Regions from separate parts of the Homo sapiens genome. Here region 1 is linked to region 2. Evidence: fine-mapped QTL for protein levels in blood plasma. A gene starts in region 2. The other region holds a variant in brackets. All regions are shown on one strand. Distances are from middle to middle.

Region 1 (15,304 bases), 80 kb after region 2:
GTTAAAAATATTTTCGCCCAGTTTATTTTACCAATTTTTTTGTTACTTGGGTCACCAGTTTTACGGCCTCTTGAAACAGTTTTCTCACTGCCTGGCCTAGAAGCCAATGTCATATGTTTTAAGCTTTCTATAGCAGCATCTCAGCATCTTCTGTCATATCCATTGCTGCAGTAACAAACAACCCTGCTGTCTCGGTGGCTAACAGTATCAAACGCTTATTTGCTACTTAACATTTCATGAGTGTTTCAGGATTGTCTGCTGCGCTGTTGGACTTGGCTTCATTCAGTTCAACAGATATTCTCATTCTAGACCCCAGGTTGAAGGAATAACAACTCTCTGGGCTATGCTATTCACATATTAGAAGTCTTGAGCAAGAGGGCAGAGCCACACCATGCAAACTCATTTAATATGCTCACATTTCATTGGTTAAAGCGAGTCAGTCAATTAAGCCAAAGGATAGGGAAGGTTTACTTCACCCATAGGGAAATCTGTCATAGGAGGGGGGCAAACAAATAAAAGTATGTACACTTATTCAATTTGCCTCACCCAGGATGTGACATAGTTGAGAATTTGATCTAAAATAACATTTTCTCTTTGTTTATATTGAACCATGTAGGTTCAGGTATAAATGAAGATTCCAAGGACATAACTGCCTACCACACAGTGTTTCTTACAGCCATATTAGGAGGAACAATAGTCATTGTCATTGGATTTTTTGCTGTACTACTTTGTTATTGCAGGTAAGAAAATGGCTATAAACACAGAAAACTATCAAGTTATGGTATCATTTCAGTATATTCTGTACATTGAAAAGTTTATTTGTAGAAATAAATTTAATCTTATAATATATCCTTTTTTATTTTTAATCTACATATCTCACAATAGCATTGCATGTATGATATGTAGATTGGGAGTGATTTTTAATAAATGAACCATTTGTGTCATAACTTTTAAATATTTTTTGCCTTCTCTTCTACTCTAGGGACAAGTGTGGTACTCCACAGAAAAGAGAAAGAAATATCACTAAACTTGAGGTCCTCAAGAGAGACCAGACAACTTCAACAACACACATAAATCATATCAGTACAGTTAAAGTTGCATTAAAAGCTGAGGACAAGTCGCAGTTATTCAATGCCAAAAACTCCTCATATAGTCCTCAGAAAAAGGAACCATCAAAGGCAGAAACAGAAGAAAGAGTTTCCATGGTAAAAACTCGGGACGATTTTAAAATCTACAATGAAGATGTTTCATTTCTATCAGTCAATCAAAATAATTACTCAAGAAACCCAACACAGTCTTTGGAGCCCAATGTAGGGTCCAAACAACCTAAACATATTAACAACAATCTATCTTCATCTCTAGGTGATGCTCAAGATGAAAAGAGGTATCTCACAGGTAATGAGGAGGCGTATGGGCGTTCCCATATTCCTGAACAGCTTATGCATATTTACAGCCAACCCATTGCCATCCTTCAAACATCTGACCTTTTCTCCACACCGGAACAATTACATACTGCTAAGTCAGCTACTTTGCCAAGAAAGGGACAGTTAGTCTATGGCCAATTGATGGAACCAGTAAATCGAGAGAACTTTACGCAGACCTTGCCCAAAATGCCAATTCATTCTCATGCACAGCCCCCAGATGCCAGGGAAGAGGATATCATACTTGAAGGTCAACAGAGCCTGCCATCCCAGGCTTCAGATTGGAGCCGATACTCAAGCAGCTTACTGGAATCCGTCTCTGTTCCTGGAACACTAAATGAGGCTGTTGTAATGACTCCATTTTCATCGGAACTTCAAGGAATTTCAGAACAGACCCTCCTGGAGCTGTCCAAAGGAAAGCCCTCCCCGCATCCCAGAGCCTGGTTTGTGTCTCTTGATGGAAAGCCAGTTGCACAAGTGAGGCACTCCTTTATAGACCTGAAAAAGGGCAAGAGAACCCAGAGCAATGACACCAGTCTGGACTCTGGGGTGGACATGAATGAGCTTCACTCAAGTAGAAAGCTCGAGAGGGAGAAAACATTCATCAAAAGCATGCATCAGCCCAAGATCCTTTACTTAGAAGATTTAGACCTAAGCAGCAGTGAGAGTGGAACCACCGTCTGTTCCCCTGAGGACCCAGCTTTAAGGCACATCCTAGATGGAGGGAGTGGAGTGATCATGGAGCACCCTGGAGAAGAGTCGCCAGGAAGGAAAAGCACTGTTGAAGATTTTGAAGCTAATACATCCCCCACTAAAAGAAGGGGCAGACCACCACTAGCCAAAAGAGATAGCAAGACTAACATCTGGAAGAAGCGAGAGGAACGCCCACTGATTCCCATAAATTAACTCCAATGGGGATTGTGTGTCTGCTGTCTCGTGCTGTTTATTCTTGCTTCTTGTTGTAAATTGCAGTACGAACTTAAGAAAATGAGACTGAGCAATCTCATGGTTCTTGGACATGTCTCAAGCAGAGTAAATGGTAATTCAGTAATCAGAGAGAAAGATACCAAGGAATGCTTTTTCTGGCCTATTCATTTATTTTTGGGTGATGAATTTACAGTATCTAAGTTTTCAAAATGTAAAATAGCTTCAAGATGTTAGTTATCTGAAAATGTTGCTCAGCCAGCCAGTTTGGCCTTGACTCTCTTAAGAATAACAGTGAAATATATACTCCTCAAGTTGCCTCCAAAAATGTTGCCTCTACCATGGTGACTACCCCATGGAACATTTAGAAACAAAACTGACTTCAGGCATCATATTATTTTAAATGTTACTATTACGTCTTCTTCTGCCTATACTTAAAAATAACTTGATAAATGACTTGGACTGATGTTACTCTGGAGTTATCACAAAGAAAATGTTGTTTGGTCTTTAAAGAGCATGTGTATTGTATCATCCCAAACGTAAATCCTACATTTATATAAGATGGGCAAGAAGCTACTTGGTCATTAGAGAGGGAGACACCAGCTCTTTGGTTGTTTTTGGATATAACTTTACAAAATAAGTAAGATGTTAATTTAGAAATTTGAGAAATTAATGCTCTAATACTGAGTTTTTATTTAAAAATTATTTTTTCTTCCCCTCAACAATGAAGCAAGCTTAGCTGTCAAGGGAAACTTTTTACAAATCTGAAAAAAACAATCTATGACTTTGGTTTAAGGCTCACTGATACTTTTAGGCTAAATTGGTTTTAATATATTTCTTCTATTCTAAAAACCTGAACTCAGTCACTTAAAGGCTATGAAATTTAAAAAAAAAGTCGATGTGAAAGTTTCTTTTGAACACTAAAATAAAATATGTGCAGATAAAATATACATTGATTTGTTTTTCTTAAATGTTGATGAGAAGAAAAAGAGATGCCATTTTCCTGAGGCTCAAAAATACCTTCAGGATAGTTGTATATCCAGTTATTGATTTTCTTAAAAGATGTGTAAGGAAAACAGTTTCAATTTCAGGGGAAAAGTAAAAGTTTTTCCCTAAGTCACTTAAAGCCTTTGCAACTTCTTTTTTCAGTTTTGTAAGTAATATATCTATGTTCTTTTCATTATAGCAAGCATTCAATGTGAACAACTTTTTAATTAACTCTGAATTACCATTCATACATCCTAAAAATAAAAGCTCGTTATTCATTAAAATCAACTGATCCCATTTTTCTTAAAATTTCCCTGAAGGCAAATGTCTGAAGCACCTTTCCCTTGTGGGGGTAAAAATCCTAAATTGCTTTATTTTTCATTCCCTCCTATTCAACATGGGAGCAGCATAGAGACCCAAACCATGTAAACAAGTTCAGTGAACCAAAACAGCCACATTAGCTTCAGTAAAATTATAGCTAGATGTGCAATTTTTTCCTCCAACTTCTAACGTGTCAAATAACCTTCCTACTGTTCTGTGTTAACTGAAAGAACATAAAGACCCTAGGCAAATATTTGCTATATATTACCCCAATCCATAGAAGAAATAATGTTTTGGGTAATACCTAGGCTTCCTTTTTTTTTTTTTTTTTTTTTTTTTAGTGATAAGGCTCATAACAATTAATTAGAGAAGGCTTCTTATTGGTCTTACACAGAAAGATACATCAAAAGCAGCATGACTCAAAATGATTTGGAAAAGGTTAAAGTTAGTGCTCTGCTGAAGTGCCTTTGATATAGACTTGCATTATTAGAAGGATATAACATCTTTTTTAAGTGTGCATTTTCTTTCAGTTAACCAAATTAAACAGATGTGCAGTTTTATTAAAAATATAGACCTAGTGTTTCATGTTGGAACAATAAATATTGCATGTGAGTAGTATTTCTTGTTTTTTGAATACAGTATATATTGATAAATTGTTTATGTTGGAATGAAGTTAGAAACTATATAGCAAAACATTATATTTTAAGTGTTTATTTTTCCCACCTTTAAATAAAAATGTTTCATCTCAGCTTGGTAATGAAATACACATATTGGTATAAGGGTATACCATTCAGGTATGCCACTTATTTTATTCATTTTTGTGTAAGGGAAATGAGATGATGTATCCCAAGGGCTTTTCTAGAACTACTTGTTTGCTTTCAGAATAAAACCTTATTATTTTTTACACTGCACATGCTGTTCTCAATTGGTAATTATAGGCAATTTATCTTTTCTAATGATCAAAAGAGTGTGACTTCTCATTTGTGAGTAGTTCACAAATTTCCTGTTAAAAAGCTGAAACCATCTACTTTTTCTTAACCCAAGTGATAATAAACAATATTCACAACTTTCTTAAATTTTTAAATTGAAAACCAAGGTTTTTTCAAATATAAACCTAGATGATTTTGGTCACAAATTGTTAACATTTGTCGATCCTTTGTATATACTTTGGATATATATTAAAGGCAAAACTATCTCTTGACTAACTGATGGATTCATTTACTAAAGCACAGCTGTATGTATTTTTGAATACATATTATGATCTTGAGACTTTATAAATCAATTTTTATGACTTTATGCAGTTGTATAGGGATTATGCCCTTTCAGTTCTATAGGGATTATGCCCTTTTATAATACATAATATACCACAGAGATTACAAATGTTGAGGAATGAAAGCACTTCTTTGCTTTGGCAATCATTTTCAGACCACTATGTGTTTGAATCCTCTGGTATCAATACGTATTATAGGGTTTTAGAGATCTGTGGGTCAAATGATGTCCCTCAAAACTTCCTAAAAAGGTGAAGCTCAAAGTCACACATTCTTATAAGGCGCATGAGTTTCTCATTTTCCCATGTACGAGCATTGTAAAGGAATTCAGCTGTATTAATTTCTATTTCAGATCTAGAATTGACATTTTGCCTTCTTGTTTCCAGGTGTTTCTATTTTTTGTATTCTTTCAGAGAAATCTCATATTTCGGTGTATTTATTGCTGTTACTACTATATTTACTGCTGAAAACTGTAACAACCTGAAGATTTGTAAAATGTTAAACATAGTTCATTAAAAATAATAAAATAAATCTAAAATGTACTTGGAGCATTGTTTAATTTTTGGTGAACTAGAAAACATTCCTCCCTACATTGCCATTTAATCTAGTAAATATTCAATTATTACTTTTTACTTATTACATCTCCTACAGTAAAATAAACCCTTTTATTTATATAATGAACTCGATATTTCTTTATATTTCATGTCTACAAAGTCCCAATTTTTACTATTAGAGCTGAGTGTGGACAAATTGTTTTCCATCCACTGAGGAGATTTAAGACAATCTGATTGAATCTAAAATAAATTACAAATCCCAAAACACCTAAGTGAGAAAATGATACAGTAAACCCTCAACCCCCTTTTAAAATATTCTTTGAACTCTAAACCTGAGTCTAAATGATAACACAAAGGCTATTTATACTTAAAAGAGTTAGCTCTTCAATAACCTTTCTGCTTAATCAATTGAACAATATTTAAGTTCATGCAGTTTGTATTAGGGGACTTTAGAATACTTTCTAGAATTATCTTGACTGCCATGTTTTTAGACATGTAACTTTTATACATTAATAAGGTACTAAAAATAGCTTTGGTCAGTTCTAATAGGAATTGGACTCTGAATCCACTCACCAGTAGACATTGTAATTCCCAGCACTGGCTGTATGATAAATACTTCCACTTGGATCCCTGCATGTGCCAGCCAAGCTATGGCTACCTTTGTTAGGGAGCCTGGTCTCCATCCAAGAGAGTCTTAGTCTTACCAGAAATTATATGGCCCCTGGAGGAGCCATAGGGGACGCTAACTCACATGGTACTGGTTTGTAACAAAACTATTCATCAATCAGAAACAGCTGGCAAACATGATGGTCATGAACTGATCATCACATTCTCATCTCAGAAGAGAAACTAATATGGGAAGACTGAGATGTAAGAACTGTAAGAAAAGTAGTTGGATATAATTAAGAGACATTTTAATCAGTTTATCAAAAGTGATTCACCTTTTGGTACTTAATAACTGGCAGATAATCAGGGATCCTTTCCTTGAAGTAAATGTTGGAAAAATATTTAAACTACACCACAGTGTTTGTTTACCTAGACCCCATGAAATCACCCTGTGGACCTCTTTTTATAGGTGGATTTCTTGACAGATGGATACACAGTGAGACAGCTTACTTATATCGGTAAGCTCTCTCTAAATCAACTAGAGGGCTAATTTCTTCTAGGAAAAATTGCCTTATTTTCTTAGTTTTGAATTTGTTTGCTCCATCAAAATAAATATTCTTTCTTTGACTTGTCTTTATCTTTTCATTTTGAGCTTCAGTTTATTTGGGGACTAGATTTCTGCCTATTAAGATTTTTAAAACATAACATCTTCAGAGTTTGACTAGAAGAAAATAGTCTAGAAGTCAACCATAATTTGCCATATTAAATGCTGAAAGCTAATAATCTCAATGACAAATGATGGAAAAACATTTTCATCAAGTATATAATGGTACGTGCCTTAGAAAAAAATAACTATTTTCTTTCCAAAATAGCTAAGCTTAAAGATTACATTTTAAAACTACCTGTGATGTTTGTTAAAATATTGCAATAACACGTTCCTGCACTTTGTTAGCTATAGTAGATGAATAGCTTCCTATTTCTTTTGGGAAAGTTTACATGATGATGTAAACCCACAGATTATTTTTAAAAAAGAAAGTTCACATCTTTAGAAGCATATGCTATTTTATCCCCCTAGGTAACAAAACCTTTCTTAGTTGAAACCTATTATTTCCTGGTTTTCAAGCCTACCTCTGCTATGGTTCTGAATGGTATTCCACAGTCTTGCAAGAGTACCAGATTTTCCCCATGGATTGATTTTTTTTCTGTTCTTCAGGTTGACTGGGGGTTTCATAATTCATATGTTGACTAGTTCTAATCCTTGTAGACCTTATTAAAACACTAGACTAACTGCAGACAGTCTGATTCAAAACAAATAAGACAATTACATTCCCAAGAGTCTCTGGACTTATTACACTTGAACAGCTTAGTTAGAAACTTTTTCTAAATGGGGGCTATCCGGAAAGGGTAATAGTGGCTATTAAGCAATGTAGAGTAAATATCTCAGAATTTTTATTTTACATATTTCCATATTTCAATCCAATAATGTAGATTCTTTTGTTTTTCATAGAAAAATACTTTAAAAAATTCAGCTTAAAAAATTAGCTTATCAGTATCCAAAATTTTATAATAAAGACTATTTCAAAACCCTGATTTCTGATTTAGATAATTTCTGAAAGGTTTGTGTCCATAAAATACAAAAAAGGATAATTATTAACATACTTTTGCAGATATTTTCTCATTGTTACTTTTAAAAATTTAGTATTTCTGATTTTTAAAAGAGTTGCTTGTCATTATTCCATGTATTATTTAACAAAACACTATTGATGTGAATATTGACCATTGAAGAGGTTGTTAATGACAAGTAGATGAGATCTATAATTAAGGAGTTTACCAATTATTTCTAAGGAGTGCTTATACTTATAAAAGGAAGGGAAAAATTATTTCTCTGAATAAGTTTTTTTCCTTAATGTTTAAATAAAATGACAAGAAAAGAATCTTGAAAGTGAATTTCATGCTAACAATCTTTAACACATACCTGTTTTCTGAAACTCTGGTTTCTCAAAAAGTAATGCTTGCCACTGTTCTATTATTTTCTTTTTTCACAATGAGACATAAGAGCAAGCTGTAATGAATCAGTGATAAGAGAATTGTACTTACTCTTCTTGAAATTGGGACCTGTCTTTCCTGCCTTTTTTTTTTTTAAGTGAAGATGAGATTTGATACTATTAAAATTAGCCTTAGTAAGAAATTAATCTGAATCAGGAAATTTTGAAAATTCCATCTGCCCCAAGATGAGCTCATTTCACTTCTAAAGAAAATACTGCCTGATTGCATGTACAAAATTGTTATGTTGATATCTTATGTTTGTCTTCTTAGACCATAAGATCCTTATGGACAGAAACCATGCTTTACAATTCCTCCAATTCTTAACAGTACAGTATGTATTCAATAAATATTGATTAATGGAGTTATGAATTAGATGAATGATAATGGATTTTGTTCAATGGAATAATTGGAAATGTTTTGAGAAGAGGAGAG[A/G]GTGACATCAGCAAGATGGTAAAATAGGAGCTCCCCTGCTTGTATCCTCTCAAGCAACAAAGGCAAAAGTGGCTTTGTGGGAGCTCTGGAATTCAGATAGGAGTTTGTGAAAACCTCCTGGAGCTCAAGACCTAGTAAGGCCATTCTAGAGGGTAGAACTATGCCCATGTAGAAAGCTCACAGGCTATGGTCCCAGTTCCAGACCTGGAAATGGCCCTGTCATCCTGAGGACTCAGTTGCAGCCATGTTTGGCCTTGATCCTGCTACCACAATCACCCACCAAGGAACCCAGGTAGAGTCACACCATTTATGCCTTCAGTGACAGGCCTGCTGACTTTGTTTCTTCCTGTGGACCCTGAAATGGCTAAGAGACTTGTCTTCAGCTCTGTCAGCTGCAGACTGCAAGCAGTCCTGCCCCATGAGGTCCCCAGGGGGAGACATACTTGTCTCTCAGTTCCTAGAGGCAGGCCTGTCAACCTTAGTCTCAGCTGTGGAACCTGAAGCAGCCCTGCAACTGTTTAAGTCCCTCACATCTGTGGGCTGGGGACAACACTGCCTGTCCAGAGAACTACTCAGTGACCCAGGGGGAGCCTTCCCAGAAACCCACATGAAGCCACACCAGTCTGTGCAGCTGGTGATAGGCTAGTTGTCTGAGCGAACTTGAAGACAGGTAAGTTGAAATTACCCAATTATAGAAAGAAAAAGAATGAAGGAAGCATAAGGGACTTATGGGACACCATCAAATACAAATATATTATTAATTATGGGAGTTTCTGAAACAAGAGAGAGAGAGAAAGCTAAAGAAAGCTTATTTCAAGAAATAGTAGCTGAAAATTTCTCAAATATTGAGAGGATCCAGATTCATGGAGCTCAGAAAACCCTAAGCAAGACTGACCCTGTATTAGGCTGTTCATACATTGCTATAAATACTTGAGACTGTGTAATTTATAAAGAAGAGACTTAATTGGCCAATGGTTCTGCAGGCTTTACAGGAAGCATGGCGCTGGCATCTGCTCAGCTTCCAGTGAAGCTCCTCAAGGAACTTTCAATCACGCCAGAAGGTGAAGGGGGAACAGGCCTGTCACATGGTGAAAGTAGGAGAAAGAAAGAAAGAGAGAGAAAATGGAGGCGATGCGGGGAGGGTGCGGGCGTGGGTGCCATATACTTTTAAGTGACCAGACCTTGTGAGAACACACTCACTCTCATAAAAACAGCACCAAGCCACAAGGGATTCACCTCCATGATCCAAACACCTCCCACCAGGCTAAGAATTACAATTCGACATGAGATTTAGGCAGGGACAAATATCCAAACTCTATCAGACCCAAAGAAGAATATTCTGAGACATATTATGATCAAATTGTCAAAAATCAAAGATAGAATCTTGACAGCACCAAGAGAAAAGTGCCTTATTACACACAAGGGAACCTTCATAAGACTATCAGCAGACTTTTCAACAAAACCCTTGCAAGCCAGGAGGAAGTAAGATAACATATTCAAAGTGCAAAACAAAAAAAACAAACTGTCAATAAGTAATACTATAACTGGCAAAGCTGTCCTTCACATATGAAGGACAGAGAGACATTCCCTGACAAAGAAAACCTGAGAGACATCATCACCAGTAGACCTGCCTTACAAGAAATAATGAAGTTCTTAGAGTTGAAACAAAAGGATGCTAAATAGCAACATGAAAACATATGAAAGTACAAATGTTTCTCAACTTATAATGGGGAAACATCCTGATAAACCCATCATAAAGTCACAAAATTATAAGTCAAACCAATGTAAGTTGGGGACCATCTGTACAAAATTCACTGGTAAAGGTAAATATTTAGTGAAATCCAGTATACTCTAATACTGTAATAATGGTGTGTAAATGACTTTTAATTCTAGTACAAAAGTTAAAAGACCAAAGTATTAAAAATAACTGTAACTACAATTTGCTGATAAATAAACAAAATAGAAAGATGTAAAATATAACATCAATAGCCTAAAATGTGGTGAGGAGCGAAATAGAAGTGTGGGTTTTGTATGCTATTGAACTTAAGCTTTTAGTTCAAAATAGAATGTTATAACAATAAGATGTTTCGTAAAAGTCCTGTGGTGAACACAAAGAAAAAATAAACCTCTAGTGAATACACAAAGATAACAACAAAAAAAAACCAAAGCATGCACTTCAAAAATCTAACAAATTACAAAGGAGGAAGAAAAGAATGGTATAATGGAAAAAAGGAATGATGAAACAATTAGTAAACAACAAAATGGCAAAAGTTCTTACATATTGATTATTACTTTACATGCAAATGAATATATTTTCCAATCAAAAGACACAGTGTTTAAATGGATTAAAAAATATGATCTCAGTTGGAAAAAAAATGGCAGATAGGAGACAGGACTAACTTCAGCTCCCACTCAGAGCAGTGTGTGGAGGCTCACACTGTGAACTTTTGCTCCAAGGATTAGTGCAGTAACATACCAAGAAAGCCAGAGACTCCACAAGCCCTTTGAAGGAAGCGGCTTGCTGTTGCAGGTTCTGTGAGACAGCCAAAAGAATGTGAGTATTCAAAGTGTAAAAGAGGGAACATCCACCCCCAAACACACATCCTCACTGGGAAACCTAAAGGTTCAGATCACAGGAGAAGAATTTGACCTTACCTGGCGCTGAGACAAATTTAGAGAGCTGAGAAAAATATGGGGGTAGAAGAAGCACAGGGAAGAGTCCTGTGGGCACTCTCAGTCCCCAGGGAAGCCATTTCTGACTTTATTTCATAGGGGTCCTTGGGGAGGGCTGGCAGTGGAACTGGGGAAAGATGAAAGATTCAGGAAACATTCAGCTGAACTTTGTAACAATTTCAACTCAAGGTGAAGGTTCCTGGACAGAAACTGGGGGAGGGAGTGACCTGGAGTACAAATATGAACACAGAAGCTGCAGAAGGTAGGGAGGCATGAAACCTGAAAGCCCTGTTTACTTTCTCAGCAGGGAGGCTTGTAGCCTGGGGCAAGTTCTCAGCCCTGCTCACTGGCTGCCTGGAAATAAACTCAGTGTGGTTAGGGGGACACAGTGGGAGTGAGACTAGCCTTTCCAGCTGCATGGGAGCTGTGTGAGTCCTGTCACTGCTGGCTTTCCTGCACTTCTCTGGTGACCTGTATGATATGACAGAGGCAGCCATAATCTCCCTGGGAATGTAACTTCATCAGCCTGAGAACCACACTCCAATCCTCCACAACAGCCTAAGCATGCCCTGCCCAAGGAGAGTCTGAGCTCAGACACACCAGACCCTGCTCCCACCTGATGGTCTTTCTCTACCCGCTCTGGTAGCTGAAGACAAAGGACATAATTTCTTGGAAGCTCTGTGGCCCCACCCACCACCTGAGACACCCAAATACTTACCCAGGTGACCTTAGGGCAAGCTTGTATACTCCCTGTAATACTGCAGCTGATACTCTCTTGAAAGCACCACCTCCTTGCTGGAGGCCAACCAACACAAAACCAGTGCACTAAGCAAAAATACAACCAAGGACTCTCACAGAGTCCACTTCACTCCCCTGCTACATGCGCTGGAACAGGTTCTGGTATCCACGACTGAGAGACCTGAAGATGGATCACATCACATGACTCTTTGCAGACACTCCACAGAACCAGCCCAGAGCCCACTAGCTCTGCTGTGTGGCTGGATCCAGAAGAGAAACAACAATCACTATAGTTGAGCTCTCAGAAACCCCCATCCCCAGGGGAATGGGGAGAGTACCACATCCCCATAAGACAAAAGAATTCAAACAGCAGCTCTTGAGCACCGTATCTTCCTTCTGACATAGTCTACCCAAATGAGAAGAAACCAGAAAAACAATTCTGGTAATATGAAAAAACAAGGTTATTTAACACCCCCAAAAGATCACAATAACTCAGTAGCAATGGATCCAAACTGAAAAGAAATCTCTGAATTGCTAGAAGAATTCAGAAGGTTGATTTTTAAGCTACTCAAGAAGGCACCAGAGAAAGGTGAATACAAACTTAAAGAAATTTTAAAAATGTCACAGGATATGAATAGAAAAATAGATAAACAGCATAAATAAAAAATAATCACAACTTCTGGAAATGAAGGACATACTTAGAGAAATGCAAAATCCACTGGAAAGTCTCAGCAATAGAATTGAACAAGCAGAAAAAAGAACATCAGAGCTTGAAGACAAGGCTTTTGAATTAACCCAACCCAATAAAGACAAAGAAAAAAATTAAAACGGAGCAAAACCTTCAGGAAGTTTGGGATTATGTTAAAAGACCAAACCTAAGAATAATTGGTGTTCTTGAGGAGGAGAAATCTAAACATATTTGAGGGAATAATCATTCCACTATGGAAAACAGTGTGGAGATTGCTTAAAGAACTAAAAGTAGAACTACCATTTGATCCAGCAATCCCACTCCTGGGTGTCTACCCAGAGGAAAAGAAGGTATTATACAAAACATATACTTGCATATGCATGTGTATAGCAGCACAATTCACAATTGCAAAAATATGAAACTAGCCTAAATGCTCATCAATGAGTGGATAAATTGTGGTGTATATATGCATTAGTCCCTTTTCACGCTGCTGATAAAAACACACTGAGACTGGACGATTCACAAAAGAAAGAGATTTAATGGACTTACAGTTCCACATGGCTGGGGAGGCCTCACAATCATGGTGGAAGGCAAAGAGGAGCAAGTCATATCTTACATGGATGGCAGCAGGCAAAGAAAGAGAGCTTGTGCAGGAAACCTCTCATTTTTTAAAATCATCAGATCTTGTGAAACTTATTCACTATCACAAGAATGGCATGGGAAAACCTGCTCTCCATGATTCAATTACCTTCCACCGGGTCCCTCCCACAACACGTGGGAATTCAAGATAAGATTTGGGTGGAGACACAGCCAAATCATATCAATATATACCATGGAATGCTACTCAGCCATAAAAAGGAATGAAATAATGGCATTTGCAGAAATCTAGATGGAACTGGAGACCATTATTCTAAGTGAAGCAACTCAGGAATGGAAAAGGAAACATTTTATGTTCTCAATCATAAGTGGGAACTAAGCTATGAGGATGCAAAGGTGTGGAAATGGGACTTTCGGGACCTAAGGAAAGGATGGGAGCAGGGAGAGGGGTAAAAGACTACACATTGGTACAGTGTACATTGCTTGGATGTTTTGGTTTACCAAAATCTCAGAAATCATCACTGAAGAAGTTATTCATATAACCAAACACCACCTGCTCTCCAAAAACCTATTGAAATAAAAAAATTAATAAGTCAAAAAATATGATCCAATAATATTCTATGTACAAAATACTCACTTTAGGCTTGAGGACACATAGAAAGTACATGAATGAAAAAAGATATTCTATGCAAGTTATAACCAAAGAGAGCAGGGGTGCCTATACTTATAAAAGAAAAAAACAGACTAAGTCAAAAACTGTAAAGCTGTAAAATTCTAGTGTAGTAGTAAATGCCTGCATTAGACAAAAGTGTTAATATATAATAAAGATGTCAATTTATCAAGAGGTTATAACAATTGTAAATATATAGGCACCCACCATCAGATCATCTGAATATAACAGGCAGATATTAACACAAAGGAGAAATACACAGCAATGTAACAGTGGCGGACTTTAATATTCCACTTTCAACAATGGATATATTATCCATACCAAAAAGGAAAAAAGTCAATAAGGATGAAGTGGACTTGAATGATAAACCAAAGGAACCTAGCAGACATATAGAGAGAGCATTCCATCTAACAGCAGCAGAATACATATCCTTCTCAAATACACATGAAACATTCTCCAGGATTGATCATATGTTGTGTCATAAAACAAAACAAATTTAAGAAGATTGAAATCATCTCAAATATCTCTTCTGACCACAATAATATGAAACTAAAAAGCAATGATAGGAAGATTGAAAAATTCATAAATATGTGGAAATTAAGCAATAGGTTTCTGATCAACTAATGGATCAAAAAAGAAATTAAGGCCGGACGCGGTGGCTCATGCCTGTAATCCCAGAACTTTGGGAGGCTGAGGTGGGCAGATCATGAGATCAGGAGATCGAGACCTTCCTGGCTAACATGGGGAAACCCCGTCTCTGCTAAAAATACAAAAAATTAGCTGGACGTGGTGGCAGGCACCTGTAGTCCCAGCTACTCGGGAGGCTGAGGCAGGAGAATGACATTAACCTGGAAGGCGGAGCTTGCAGTGAGCCAAGATTGTGCCACTGCACTCCAGCCTGGGTGACAGAGCGAGACTCCATCTCAAAAAAAAAAAATAAATAAATAAAATAAAAAAGAAATTAAACTAGAAATTAAAAAATATATTAATACAAAAGAAAATGGAAACAAAACATATGAAAGCTTGTGGAATGCAGCGAAAGCAGTAAATGCCTACATTATAAAGGAAAAAAATCCAAATATGCAAGCTAACATTACACCAAAAGGGTCTGAAAAAAGAAGAACAAACCAAGAAAAAGTTTGTATAAGGAAGCTAATAAAGATCAGGCCAGGAAAAAATAGAAATTAGGAAAACAATGGAAGAGATTAATAAACCTAAGAGTTGTTATATTTTAAAAGATAAGTTGATATACCTTTCACTAGAAAAAAACAGAAGACTCAAAATCAGAAATAAAAGAGGAGCTATTACAACTAAAGACACAGAAATAAAAAGGTTAATAAAAAGACTATTACCAATTATACACCAACAAATTGGATAAC
Region 2 (15,098 bases):
TCTGATATATAATGAACTTCTTGGGAGAGGTACTGAATCTTTGATGTTTTTTGTCATTGTTCTCAAGTGCAATATAACAATGTAACCAAATCTAGATAATTTCAAAGTTGTCATTAATTTAGTAAGCCTAATATAAACAAATATTTGTATTATTTTTGTTAGCAGGAAAGAGTGATTAAGTGAGGTTATTTACCCCTAAATGGTCCATTCTGCATTGTATTTCAGGCTGGAAATGAATTATTCTTTACCAGTTTTGAAACACTTTGAAATATCCTAAGGTAACTTGGAAGCTGTGTAGTATATCAAATTAATTTGCTACCTAATAACATAGAAAGTAAATATCTTTGTGGTCACCCACATTGGGTGAGACAGAAAATGAATCTGTTCTAAAATTTGTAATTTGCTAACTTGATTTGAGTTAGTGAAAACTGGTACAGTGTTCTGCTTGATTTACAACATGTAACTTGTGACTGTACAATAAACATAAGCATATGGTACCACTTTTGTGTATGGGGTTTATCCTTTCTGTGACGTGTTTTTGTTTTTTGATTACATGAGCTAGCAATAATGCACTAAAAGGATGACCTCAGAGGTAACTTTCTGTAAAACTTCAAATCTTGAATGTCAGTTATTTGATGAAAAGAAACACAAAAAGAGCAAAATGTACCACATTAAAATTCATCCTTAGAAAGGCAAATATGTATTTGCCTGAAATATAAGAATTATTTTATTTCTAAACAAACATTTCTAAATTCATTATGCTAACCTTTATTATTTTTACATTATCAGATTCCTTTTAAAATGCACATTTACATCTTTTATAATTTTTAATTATAGTGTATATATGTCATTGCATATATGCAGTTGCAATATACATATGCAATTCTAGTATAAAAATACCTATTTTTATAAATGAAAAGTACCAAGAAGAAAATTAAGTGTTGAGATGCTTGGGAAATTATACTGAAGTAGCATAATACACCACCGTAAATTCCTATGGAAATAAGATAGAGTATTGCCAGCATCCACAAGCCCCCTTCTGTCTCTTTCTAATCATATCTCACCCTGCCCTGCAAAAGTAACCACTGTCCTTACTTCTAACACTATATGCTTAGTTAGATGTGATATTTCCCCTGGACCAGCAAGTCATAACTACCCCTATCCTGACCACCATACTTGATATTTTGGCTCCAATTAAGATGTAAAATGTACAGCACCTACACATGGAAGTATTTTGAGTGTGAGAATTAGAAAATGGGCAGAGCCTTTCTGTCCTGCCTGACTTACTAGTTGCTCTTTAGGATCAAATAAGATAACACATATGAAAGGATTTTATTTTTTTGAGATGGGGTCTTGCCATGTTGCCCAAGCTGGTCTCAAACTCCTGAGCTCAAGTGATCGCCTGCCTTGTCCCCCCAGAGTGCTGGGATTACAGGTGTGAGCCACCATGCCCTTCCTGAAATCATTTTGAAAACCGTTGAAACCACTTGGGTTCAAAGCTCTTCCCAGTCACTTACAAATTTACCCTCTGTGGAAGTATCTTGGTCCACAGAGGGTAAATTTGTGAGGACTTTGTGAAAATGCAAGAAAAGGGGTTATCAAACGCATATGTTAAGTGCTTATCCAGTAAGTCTCTTCCATCATTCACTTGACTGGTCCAAGAAGAAAATTTTGAGCCGTGGAATTCTCTTTTCCAAGATTAATTTTAAACATCCTTCGAACCTTATAATGGTGATAAATCATTAATGAGGCAAGCCATTATAGAGAGTTGTATTAGTCTGTTTCACACTGCTATAAAAGAACTGCCTGAGACTGGGTAATTTATAAAGGAAAGAGTTTTAATTGACTCACAATTCAGCATGGCTGGGGAGGCCTCAGGAAACATAATCATGGCTAAAGGCAAAGGGGAAACAAGGCACCTTCTTCACAAGGCAGCATGATGAAAAATGAATGCAGGCGGAACTACCAAACACTTATAAACCGTCAGATCTCGTGAGAACTCACTATCAATAGAACAGCATGGGGGAAACTGCCCCCATGATTAAGTTACCTCCATCTGGTCTCTTCTTTGACATGTAGGGATTGTAGGGATTATGGGAATTACAATTTGAGATGAGATTTTGGGTGGGGACACAGCCAAACCATATGAAGAAACATTCTTGAACAGGCCTGAAATACGATAAAATTCAACCACCGGCAGCCATGTTGGCAAAAAGTGACAGAACTGTATGCGTTTTAGAAAAAGAAATTATACTACTTATTTCTAAGAAGTAGCTTTGGTATTTTGCTTTGGTGATATGTCTATTTATTATGAATAATTTATATAATAGCTAATATTATAGATACTATATTGATACCCATTTTATTGATTTGAAATCAGCTCAGAGAATGATTATCAAAGCTCTCACACTAGCGTGTGGTAGAGCTTTGTTATGTCCCCAGGATGTTCTCTCTTAATGTGTTCTACAGTAGTGTCTTTCCTTGCAGAAACCACCTAGCCCCTCCATACCTTTTTATTATATCCTATATGATGGACATCGTAATAGCTACCTCATCATGTAGTGTTATCTTTGGAAATATTAAATATATGCAAAGTACTTATGTATATTAGTATATTAACATATTAGAAGACAGAATGATGGCTGGCAATATTTTCATATTACTGCCAAGAAGAGGTGATAAGGGCTTAAATAAACCAGGCCAGTAACAATGGGAATGGAAAGAAGGAGACATATTTAGGATAATGTATGATGTAGAATCCATAGGTTTCTGGGTTGGGTGATTGGCTGGACTGAGAACTGAGGCAGGAAATAGGAAAGGGGCAGAGATTTGGGGAAGAGCAGAGAGTTTAGGAGAGGAAAAGGTACATTACATTTGAGGTACTTATGGCATATCCAGATGGAAATTTCCAGCAGGTTCTTGTAAACATAAGCCTTGGTATTCAGGAGAAAGATCAAAGCCAGAGAAATAATATGGGTATTAATAGAAGCTAATGGATGAGATTGTTCAAGAGAAATGTGTAAAGTAAGGAGACAGGAAGAAGGCAGTGCAGTAAATTTTTACATTTAAAAGGAGGATGGGATGGCCAGGATCCAGGAGGCTTGGCTATAGAAGTAAAAAAAAAAAAGTCAAGAGAGACTGTGACGCAAGACCATAGAGAAACAAAGTAACCATAGAGAAACAAAGTAAGAGAAGAGTGGGTTATTCGTGACCTTACAGAAAGCCATTTCAGTGGTGTGGTCAAGCACTAAACCCGGATTACAGTGGGTCAAGCAGTGGATAGGCATTAGGCTTGGCTAGGCTTAGAAAGGAAGAGAACGGGCTGTAGTTTGAGGTGAAAGCAAAAGTAGGAAAGTTTGTTTTACAGATGGAAAATTCTTGAGCAGTTTTGTACATTAAGGGGCAAAACACATTTTAAAGGATATGATGTAGATAAGGAAAGAAGGAAAACTTGAGGAGAGCAGATCTAGAACATATTGGGAGAAGGAGGGTCAGGATTAGCATCAAGAGATGAGATAGAACAATCCCAGGGAATATCTTGGATCAGGAGCAAAATCACAAAGTTGCAAACAGTGGCCTGATGTTGTTTTGTTTGGCCTCAAGGTATTTTAAAAATAAATGAACTAGTTGGCACCATTAATGTATTATAAATACCCCAAAGACAGAGATTCTGAATTCTAAGAGCCACGGTATTCTTGAGGATAGGAGCCTGTGTTCTTGCTTGGATACAGCATTGGAACTGAGTAAGGTCTGCACTAAGATGGTCAAGCAATTTTGGGGTTACCATAAATCCTAGAGAGACTTCCGTTTATTTCACGAGACTAAGTTCTCATTACTCATTTGCCTAGCCATTGTAGGAATTTGAGTTTGTAACTCCTGATGAAGAGCCTGCTGAAATCATGAATGGATCAGAATTACCTGCTGAGTTTACCATACCACTCTTTGGCTAGGTTATACCCCAAATACCCTTTGCATTTGTTCAGTCTGTTGCTTGTACATAAGCTAAATCTAAAGGCAACCAGCTGGGCACAGTGGCTCATGTCTGTAATCTTGACATTTTGGGAGGCCAAGGTAGGAGGTTTGCTTGAGGCCAGGAGTTCTAGACCAGTCTGGGCAAGACAGTGAGACCCCCATCTCTACAAAAAAAATTTTTTTTAATTAAAAACTTTCTTGTAAACAAAGCAACTTGATCATAGATATCATAATACTTTGACATGCTTGATTAAAAAAAAGATTATAAATAATTTTAGTGACCAAGAACAGAATCATAGGCATTTAAAGTTTAATAGGGGTTTCCAATTTCAATAATGGCAGGATAGCTTTTATCAGATAACAATGATAAATTCTTAACAAAATAGGGTGGAAAACAATCCTTTGAAGACATTGAAGTTACTGAAAGCAGGCAGAAATTGGAGGGGATTTAACTGTTAAAGAAGGCAGCTACATTTACCCCTGAGGTTACTCCCTATGGAACGGATAGAATACAACAGAAAGCTGTCTTTCTTTCTGGAATGATGAGACTGCCACTATGGCTAGAAATTGAGGAGAAAAATCCAGGAAAGGAAGCAGTCACAGGGTGGGAGGTGGGAAATATTTCCCTCAAATCCTTGGCTGAACCCAGCACTGAGTGAGGCTATAAGGGGCCCAGAGGAAAACAACAGAGGGAAGGCTGAAAGAATGGAGCAGTTATTCCAGCTACTACTGTCCACTGCACAAGAAACAAGAGATGAAAGTTCAAGTCTTACTAGTTACAGGGCTTCAAAAAACCCATTTTTCCATTGAAACCCCATTGGATCTATGCCTTAGGAATAAGTAGTACATCCAAAGATTAATTAATTCACCCTAGGATGAAGGAAAAAGCCAAAACAGGCCCACCCTAACAAACTGTAAAACCAAGCTTCCCCAAGTTTATGATACACCTGTAATTTAACTGACTGCTGGTAAAGACTTACTTTCAGAGGAAGATGACACAACATAGAGACTCTGCAATGTATCATCCACAATGTCATGGAGGGGAGGAGGGTGGGGAAGAATGGGAAGAAACAGGAAAATGTGAGAAAATATAACCCAGAGTTTTGAGAAAAATCAGTCAATAGAAACAGACCCACAAACAATTTAGCAGACATGACTTTATTTTTTCTGTTATTTTTATATTTAAAAATATTTTATCTTTCAATTTGTTTTTTTTTATTTCAATAGCTTTTGGTGTACAAGTGGTTTTTGGATACATGGATGAACTGTATAGTGGTGAAGTCTGAGATATCAGTGTACCCTTCACCCGAGCAGTGTACATCTTACCCAATGTGTAGTTTGCTATCCCTCACTCCCTCTCACCCTCCCCACTTCTGAGTCTCCAGTGTCCATTCTGTATGCCTTTGTGTACCCATAGCTGACATGACTTCAAATAACTACGATGAAAATCCTCAAAGGTCTATAGGAAAACATGAATATTATGGATGAAGAGATGGGCATTTCAGGAAAGATTGGGAAACTAATTAAATACACTTGAATGAATATTTTAGGATTAAAAGTAGTATCTGAAATCAGAAATCCATTGGAGGGGGATCAAAAGTAGAGTGAGGTAGCATAGAATAAAAGATCAATGAATTTAGATCAACAGAATTTATCCAAACTGAAGCACAGAGCAGAAAAAAAAAATTAATAAACAGCCTCAGTGACTTGTGGGACAATCTAACTAGGTGGAAAAACAGTCTCAGAGAAAGAATGGGGCAGACAAATTATTTGAAGTCAAAAACTGCAAATTTGATTTAAAAAATAGCAACCTACAATTCTGGAAGCTCAGTGAACCCTAAACAGGACATCTTTTAGGCACATCAAGGTCAAACTCCTAAAAGCCATAAGCTAGAAGAAGTTTGCCTCAACCCCTTCTTAATGTTAACAATCCCCAGAAAATTCATTACTTGGCCAAGGCAGTTACTAGCAGGATTAGGACTAATGCTTACACATTCAAACTCCTGGTCCAGTATGCTTTCTGCTGTGCAACATTACCTAGATTACTAAACATAGCTCATAAAATAGAATTGCTGTTATCTAGTGAATAGGTTGCAATGCCCGAATATCAATTTGTGCAACAACAATATTTTTCCAAGTAATGTTTTATTCACTTTCTAAAGTGTTCTGACTTTCCTAGAAAGTTATTTGGTTATGGTCCCTTTCATACCATTTCCTTGTCAACCCCATTTTCCTGAAGCATAGCAAATATATTATCAGTTTTAATAAAAGTAGTGTTTAGGTTTTGACTTTGGTCATTACACAGTAATTTACCTTCACGTTATTTAAAAATACCTACTTTGTTTCAAAGTAATTAATCTTAAAGTTATTTTACTTCCTTTCTCAGATATTAGGGTGTTAAAATGGACCCTTTAGGGGTTACTCTTTAGTTAATCCTGTATTCAGAATATTAATTAGTTATCACTAAGTTATTCAAAAAGTGTCAACTGATCTACATTATTAGTAGTAGTTTTCAATTTGGAGAATTATGCTCTTCACCAGAGTAATAGAAATTATTTTTGATCTTGTGTATGGTACATGATAGGTTTTTCATAGAAAATTCTGGTGGCTTATACTTTTTTTCATCTTTGAACAATGTAGATAAAGTTGTTTTTGAGATTATAACAGACATAAACATCTTTAAAATTCAGGGATATTATTACCTAGTCTGCAGACAAATCAGTAATTTTGAATTTTTCAGTATACTTTAGTGAGGAAATAAAAAGGAAAAAATTATTAAATAAGTAAATTTCCTGTTTGATAGTAATACCAATTTTGACTTTCTGACTTGCACCTTGACTATTAAACCAGACCCAAGCACTTCACCTGGTGCTAAATTACTAGCACAAACTGAAACAGAAAGGTCTTCTCTCAATCATCCCACAGGTATTTAATGATTCCCAACAAATAGAGATGACACACCAGTAACTAATTTTACTTTCTTTCCAATGGACAGCCCTAGCCTTTCAAGGGAACCCTAAAGCAGCTGCAGTATAGCAGTGATTTAATGACAGAACTGAGAATCTGGTTTATTTACCATACAGAAATAATCCTGTCTTCTCACTTTTAATTCTCCAAATCCAGCTCTTCTCCCTACCGATTCTCTATCCTCTCCTAGTTGCATGCAGTCTTGTCACTGGATAAGCTTCATTACTTTATCATGTATTGAATGATAAATTAGTTTTACATTGCTGCCAAATCTTTTTAAGGCACTTTGGATTTTAAAGTCCAAACTATGTGTAAGGTAACATATTCACAGCTCCTATGAATTACCTCATGGACATCTTTGGGAGGCATTTTTATTTCTACTGAAACCAGGCCAATTGTCCCATAGAACTGATATTTATGGTTTATTTTTAATAAACATAGAAATAGACCCTACCAGTCTTAAAACTTGAAAAATTTACACTTGTGTTATCTGAGTTCCTTTCTCAGGAAAGCACCAGCAGGCCTCCCAGAGAGTATCAAGGAACTGAAACTTAACAGATCATGGCATCTGGACAATGAGATCTCAGACTTCTTACTTGTCATGATTGCCTAACCAACCACCTGTTTCCTGTTGATGAACTCCTCTTTCTTACTCTTCCCTAATCCCCGTTTTCCAACACATAGTTCCATTTCTTCCCTGCTATATAACCCTTAATTTTAGTCTAGTTTTTGAGGAACTGCCAAATTGTTTCCAAATGTAAACAGCAGCTGCACCAGTTTACATTTCCACCAGCAATGTATGAGGGTTCCAATTTCTCCATGTCCTTGCCAACACGTGTTTTCCATTAAAAAAAATTATAGCCATCCTAATGAGTGTAAAGTTGTATCTCATTGTGATTGATTTGCATTTTACTAATGACTGTTGATGTTCAGCATCTTTTCATGTGCTTATTGGCCATTTTTATATCTTCTTTGAAAAAAATGACTATTCAAGTCCTTTGCCCATTTTAAATATTGTTGTGTTGTCTGTCATTTTGCTTTAAGTTGTAAGAGTTCTTTTTATATTCTGTAGGTTGTCTTTTCACTTTCACGATAGTGTCCTTTGATGCATAAATGTTTTAATTTTGATAAAATTCAATATATATATATATTTCTTTCTTTTGTTGCTTGCCCTTTGGTGTCATATCTAAGAAATTATTGCTGAATCCAACATCACGAAAATGTATCCCTATACTTCTTTTAAGAGTTCTATAATGTTAGTTCTTATATTTATGTCCTTGATCCAATTTTAGTTAATTTTTGTAAATGATGTGAAGTAAGGGTCTAACTTCATTCTGTTGCATGCAGCTATGGAGTTGCCCAACATGAACATTCCCAGCTGAGGTCAAATGAGAAGATGCTCTTCCTTCTTGTTCAGCTCTTAAAATGGAAATGTGTCCTTTCTGTGGTCTATTTAGCACCATATTTTTCACAGTTGTGTGCTTTTTTCCTGGTGATTTTGTTGTTTAAAATGGCTCTCCAGTATAATACTGGAGTGCTGTCTAGCACTTCTTAGTACCAGAAGGCTGTGATGAGCCTTGGAGGCAAAATACAAGTGTTAGGTAAGCTTTGTTTAGACATGAGTTACAGTGCTATTGTCTGTGATTTCAATGTTGTTGAACCAATAATATATAAAATAAACATGGTGTCTTTAAACAGAAACACACATAAAACAAGTTTTATATTGATCTGTTGACAAAAATCTTGTGATGAGAGGTTCACAGGAACCTAACTTGTATTTCCTCTAGGAGGAATGGTTCAGTATTTGCTAATTCAACGTTTACGGTTACTTAATGGAACATTCACTACCGAGAAAAATGAGAAGTGATTGCATATAACATGCATTTTGTTTTGTTTTTAATTTTTTTCTTTTTATCTTCAGATGAGCATCATGATCTAGAAATTTTATATACATATAAGATACATATAAACAAAACAGAACAATCATATACAAGTTTAACAAAATAAATAACAGTTAACATTTACCGAAGACTTCCTCTGGGCTGAAATTCAAAGTATTTCACATGTTATTTTATTTTGTTAGCTCCTTTAGGTTCTACTATTTCTCCCCCTATACAGTTGAGGAAACTGAGGCCTAGAATCTCATGTAAATTACATCACTCGTGAGGGGTTGATACCAGAGCAGTCTGATACCATGGTCCTCCACCCTTAAGCAACAGTTCTGCCTCTTAAAATTGTTTTATTGATTTAATCAGCCAAGTAATCAATCAAACAAGCAATGCCAGGTATCATGGTAGGAGCTGCTGACACAGCTGTGAGCATAATGGTCCTGGCTCTTGTGGGGCTAGTAAGTGAGGATACAGAAAAGTAAATGCCCATTTTAAATAATAAGATCAAAACAGGAAATATGGGTTGCCACGCAAGCTCATAACAGAGGCACCTAATCAAACTAAGGGTGTTAGGGAATGAATCCTGGAGGAAGTAATATCTAACCTGAACTCTTCGGGCTCTAGGGGAACTTGCCAGTTAAACGGGTAAAGGAGTAGACTTCTAGGCAGGGAAAATCACATATTTAAAGGTCTAGGGGCAACTCAAATCTAGTTCAAAGGAATAGAAGAAACTCCCGTGTGTGTGTGTGTGTGTGTGTGTGTGTGTGTGTGTGTATGCAGGAAAATTTTTAAAATGAACCTGAACCTAGGTAGTCAGGGGACATATTGCAAACGGCTTTGTAAATCATGTTAGGAATTTTGGATTTGTGCTAAGAGTAATGAGGAGGTACCAGTAGGTTTTAAGTGGGGAAGAATTATATGTGTATAGTATTGTGCTTTGCTTTCTGATGGCTCTTGGGGCATTTTTCTAAAAATGATGAATTTCTAACCTTAACGATTACATTGTGTTTAGCATAAACTTTATCATGGACTATGTACCTGAAAATAACTTGCTGGATTAACTGGCATTTTTCATTCCTTTGTAAAACACACAGACAAACATTTAGGGCAAATGTAGTTATCAGCTTACATCTTCCTGAATGTCTGCCTATGTTTACTCCTGTCATTTGGTTGTGCCTGTGCCAAAAGTCAGTTATATTTTTCACAAACTTTTTCTTTTTTGCCAGTTATATGTGTGATAAGGAATATATACAATATGGATTTGAGATAAGTAAATTTTTCCTATTAAAACTAAGTTTAGGCCAGGTGTGGTGGCTCACGCCTGTAATCCCAGCATTTTCGGAGGCTGAGGCGGGCGATCACCTGAGGTCAGGAGTTCAAGACCAGTCTGGCCAACATGGCGAAACCCTGTCTCTACTAAAAATACAAAAATTAGCCAGGCGTGGTGGCATGCACCAGTAATCCCAGCTACTCAGGAGGCTGAGGCAGGAGAATCGCTTGAACCCAGGAGGTGGAGGTTGCAGTGAGCCAAGATTTTTCCATTGCACTCTAGCCTGGAAGACAAGAGCGAGACTCTGTTTCAAAAAATAAAATAAAATAAAATATAAGTTTAATACTAAGTATATGAGAAAATTCTACAAGCTTGGGAAAAAAATTGAACATAGAATGACTTGGCACTCTAATTGTGTGGCAAGGGTCTTTGAGAACTTCCACTTAAACTAAACCTGCAAATCATAGTGGTATATCATAACTGTGGTTTATGACTTCAAACTCTAGGATGTGGTTGAAATTCTTGGCCCTACATCAAAAGATTTGTGAACAAATATATATTTATTTATTCTAGGGTAAAATATGTGGCTTAAGATATATTTAGGATGTATTGACTTTGGTCTTTTGATGAACTTTTTTCATTTGCCAAGTACTATCCCCAATTGAATCGGATAATATGGCTTTTTTATATTGCACAGAAATTAAGCATGAACTACACGAATAATGAAGCACTTAAAAACTATTTAAATACTCTTGATTGACAACACTTACCTCTTAAAACAGTCCATAGTATTGAAAGATTTGAGGTCCACCCTCTACCAGGGTCCATGACCCAGTGGCTTTGCCTCCAGAAGGTCTGCTTCTACTATATTAAAAATAACTTGGCTACCCCAAGGCAGGATGACAGAAATCCTGGCTGCATTCCTTTCCTTCTGATCCACCAGTCAGGTTTTTGGAGCCATTTCCATTTTCTCCTTTCTTCTCTCCAGGAGCAGAGGTAACTTGGAAGAGATTGCCATAAAAACAGCTTGATGAAACTAATGGAAACTTGCTGCCTTCAGCTCTGGAGCCCCCTCCCCCAATGGCTCCTGCCTCACACAGACCAGGGAAAGAAAGTCCTGATGGAAGAATGATGTTTAGTGTGAGGGGCCTCACTTTAGTATCTATTTTCCCCAAAATTATGTGGTCCACATACCTTATTTTTGTTTTAAAATCACTAAAAAAGCAATACAAACTCATAGCAGAAGTCTCAAACGGTGCAGAAAGGTAAAGTCACACACTGTAAATGTAGCCTCTGGCAAGACATGGAGCCTCTCTGATCTCCAGTGTTTCCATTTGCTAAATAGGATAATGAGAGCTAATTTGTAGAGATGCTCTGAAGATATAATGAGATAATAGATGCAAAATACCTACTGTTATTTTATTTATGGTTATTGTGTCAGTCCATTTGCATTGCAGTAAACTTCGGGTGACATAAAGAAAAGCGGTTTACTTTAGGTCAGTTCTGCTGGCTGTACAACGCAAGTGTGGTGCTGGCATCTGCTCTGGTGAGACCTTAGAAAGCTTACAATCATGGTGGATGGTGAAAGGGAGACAGCGTGTCACATGACAGGAGAGGGAGCAAGCGAGAGAGAGAAGGGAGTTGCCACACTTTTAAACAACCAGATCTCTTGTGAGCTCAGAGCAAGAATTCAGTCATTACCATGAAGAGGGCACCAAGCCATTCATGAGGGATTCTCCTCTATGAACCAAAGACCTTCCACTAGGCCCCACCTCCAACATTGGAGGTCACATTTCAATATGAGATTTGGAAAGGACAAAACATCTAAACCATTAGTTATATATACACTATTTTCATTTGCTTAACCAAAAAATACTTTTCCAGTACTGAGAAGTTTGTTGTTTTCCAGCATATTGAAAACACTGGGAGGGACAAGGTAAGAATGATAAGGGTGGAAAAGGACAATGAACTACAATGGTAAATGGGGTGATGTCACAGCAGGTGACATTTATATTGCACTATGAGATGTCCCACAGTTACTCCAAATACAAAGAGACCACAACTGAACAAGGCAGGGCTCATTACTCTAGGCCAGTTAATGTTGATAAGGTCATAAGCAGCCACCTAAGATCTCAATTTGTCAATTTAGGTGTCACACTAGGCATATCTCCTCCTCTTCCAATTAACCGTATCTGTTTATTGTAGTCTTATATACTGTGTCTCCTACTCTTTTCTTCTCCTTTTCAGTTTCAATGACCTTTGGCATCTCCTATGGGTTTTGGCAAACACCTCTAAACTGGCATCTTCTCTTCCAATTTATCCCCCTTTAATCCATCTGCCATACTGAGAGCAAAGTGATCCTCCTAAAATGCACAACTGGTAGCAAGTTTCTTCCCTGATTAATTTCTTTCATTATCATCTACTGTGTGAATTTCAATTTCTGTATACAGCATCTAAGTTTATTACAGAAGTTAACAAATGTGAAGTACTTGAGCACACAGTAAGTACTATAGAAATGCTTGTTATTATTATTTTTTTAATGACCTGGTCTCCACTCTCCTTTTCAATCTAAAACACTGTCATTCCTCCATTAGAATAATTGCTCACACTTTTGCAAGCCCACTGTGCTTACACACATCTGGGCTTCACACACACACACACACACACACACACACACACACACACACTCTTCCACGTTCCTGATTTCTCCTGTGTGGAAGTCTTACTCTTTTTTATATTCTACCTCTCCTGGTGTTTCATAGCCCCTACATACACAAGATATTTTCTTCCAATTCTGAGACCTCTGGACTTGTATTGCTTTTCTGTTTGTAGCCACCACATTGGGTTCTAATTTGTTCCTGTGTTCCTCTCCCCTAATAGATGTTGAGCTCCTGGAATGCAGGGATTGTATTTTACTTATTCCAAGCACCTGAAGAAATGCTGGCACATGGTAAGCAACTAGTATTTAGTAAGATTTTTTTGAACAAATGAAAAGGATAGGCTAGAATTAGATAAAATGTAATTAAGAATATTTAATGATATGGAAAGAAATTCCCACTAGGGCAGAGAAAAGAAGTTTAGTCAAAATCTGGCGCGCTGCAGTTTAACTTCTAGCTAAGCAATGATGGCGGTGATGCAGCAAAGCCTATTTGTTTGAGATCCTGGCTTTTTGATCCGTTGGTGCCACCCACGCTATGTGCTGGATGGGGGTAATCAATATACCACCTTCTCTGCTACTTTGGGCTCAGGTGGAAGGAATTTTATTCCACTCTCTGCAAATCTTCCCGGTGCCTCAGTGGGAAGTGGACGCTGTGAGGGTCTACCAGCTCCCAGAAGGCCTCCCCTTTCTGTTTCCCCTAGGGCCCTCCACCCGGGCTGCAGCCCCAGCATCGCGTCCTCTCGGAGCAGCCTGGCCCCAGGTGGCTGCGGGGCGCGGGACCGCGGGCCCCGGCTCGCCCCTCCCCGCGCGTCACATGCGCGAGGATGCGAACTCCCCTTCCCTCCTCCTCCGCCCCCTCCGCCTCCCGGGCCTCTTCCTCCTGCCGGTGAGGGAGTGCTTGGCAGATTGCGCGAGGGGGAGCGAGCGAGCGGGCGCTGCCAGGAGCCCGCAGCCCTGGCGCCCGCCGCCGCCCGGAGCCCCGCAATATGCCGCCGCGGCCCTCTGGCTCTAGGCCATGGCGAGGCTCTGCCGGCGTGTCCCCTGCACCCTGCTTCTCGGCCTGGCCGTGGTGCTGCTGAAAGCGCGGCTGGTCCCCGCGGCCGCCAGAGCGGAACTCAGCCGCTCCGACCTCAGCCTCATCCAACAGCAGCAGCAGCAGCAGCAACAACAACAACAACAGCAAAAGCAGCTGGAGGAGGCTGAGGAGGAGAGGACAGAGGTGCCTGGGGCAACCTCCACCTTGACGGTTCCAGGTAGGTCCTGGCTGCCCAGCCCGGTCTTTCAGTCTCGGCCGGCGATCTCTTAGGGCCTCGCCGGCTTCCTCGCCCCTTCCCTATCCATTCCTATCCTCGTTCGTTCCTGTCACCATCCCTCCCGATCTCTCTCCCCAGACTGGCTGCCCAGCCTTTGGTCCCTTGATCTGGTGTCGGGAATCTGCCCTCCGGGTAATGAGCTTTCTGAGCAGCTCAGAGCACTGCGGTGGGTTGGAGAGGGGTCGGGAAGGCTGGGGGTGGGTGACTGCCTGGATTGATCTTTTTCTTTTCCCTCCCTTCTTCCTGAATTCTACCCTCTGCCCTGGGAATGACTGTAACACACACACACACACACACACACACACACACACACACACACACACCGTTCTTAAATCCCTTAAACATTTTGTTCTCTATCCTTTTCTCTCCTAGAGACTGAGAAATCTTGCCATGGACACCCACACACCCCTTTTCACCATTTCTCCATGCCTGCTATATTTAAATTTAGCCATGAAGAGAGAAATCTTTATATATTTTATTATTTATTTCTCTTTCTCTTTACCCCAGGAAGGGTTTAAGGGTTCATCTTATTGCAAAGAACTCTTTTAGTACAATAAGATGAAGCAAAACAAAACAGGAGTTTGTAATTGAAGGAAAGGGAAAAGGAGAGGGGGACACATAAGGTGAAGTCTGGAGTGGTGTTAGAACAGCAAAAGCCTATCCCTAGAGAGAGAAATCTCCTTACTTGTTAGTAGAACTTAAATGAGGCAGATTCTTGACACTGTTCAGTGAAGGTGTAGAAATACGGCTGTAGTATAGGTGGCTGTAACAGTTCCGCAGTTCCTCCCTCTTTCCCCCCATTAAAGCTCCATCGGTAAGCAAATAGCTAGATTATCCATGTATATTGCATCTCCCTACCCCGCAACCCACTTCGCTTCATGGCTGTAGATTCTTGTCTGCTATTTGGAAAGAAAAAAAGCCTCCAATTTTCTGGCACGAGGGCTTAGGTTTTGTGAAACCAAAGTGAATTTTATTATGACGTTTGTTTTTGTTTTAAAATCCTGCCTGGTAACACTATATGAGTGCTG

Direction of the effects. Alleles are on the strand shown, and positions count from the first base shown. The strength of an association depends on the size of the effect and on how common the allele is.
In carriers of allele A in region 1, the plasma level of the protein whose gene starts at base 13,659 in region 2 tends to be higher than with G alone (moderate association).

Evidence for each region. PIP is the posterior inclusion probability: the model's chance that the variant is causal. Protein levels are from antibody-based Olink assays in UK Biobank. Linkage for the fine-mapping came from a reference panel and not from the study's own genotypes, which makes the PIPs less certain.
Region 1: its variant is fine-mapped to the plasma level of the FAM171B protein (UK Biobank, PIP above 0.99).

Annotation. Positions count from the first base shown.
Region 1 is chr2:186,760,497-186,775,800 of GRCh38, forward strand. FAM171B (family with sequence similarity 171 member B) reads left to right here. Exons shown (of 8, transcript NM_177454.4): 7 at 617-740; 8 at 983-5,463. The coding sequence ends at 2,327. Among named protein-coding and RNA genes, the nearest start is that of FAM171B, 74 kb to the left of the region's middle. The variant A/G (reference allele first, on the strand shown) is at 8,560.
Region 2 is chr2:186,680,402-186,695,499 of GRCh38, forward strand. It overlaps FAM171B (family with sequence similarity 171 member B), which reads left to right and starts at 13,659. Exons shown (of 8, transcript NM_177454.4): 1 at 13,659-14,010. The coding sequence starts at 13,773. ITGAV (integrin subunit alpha V) reads left to right here. Exons shown (of 30, transcript NM_002210.5): 30 at 1-500. RefSeq lists a silencer at 13,463-13,822.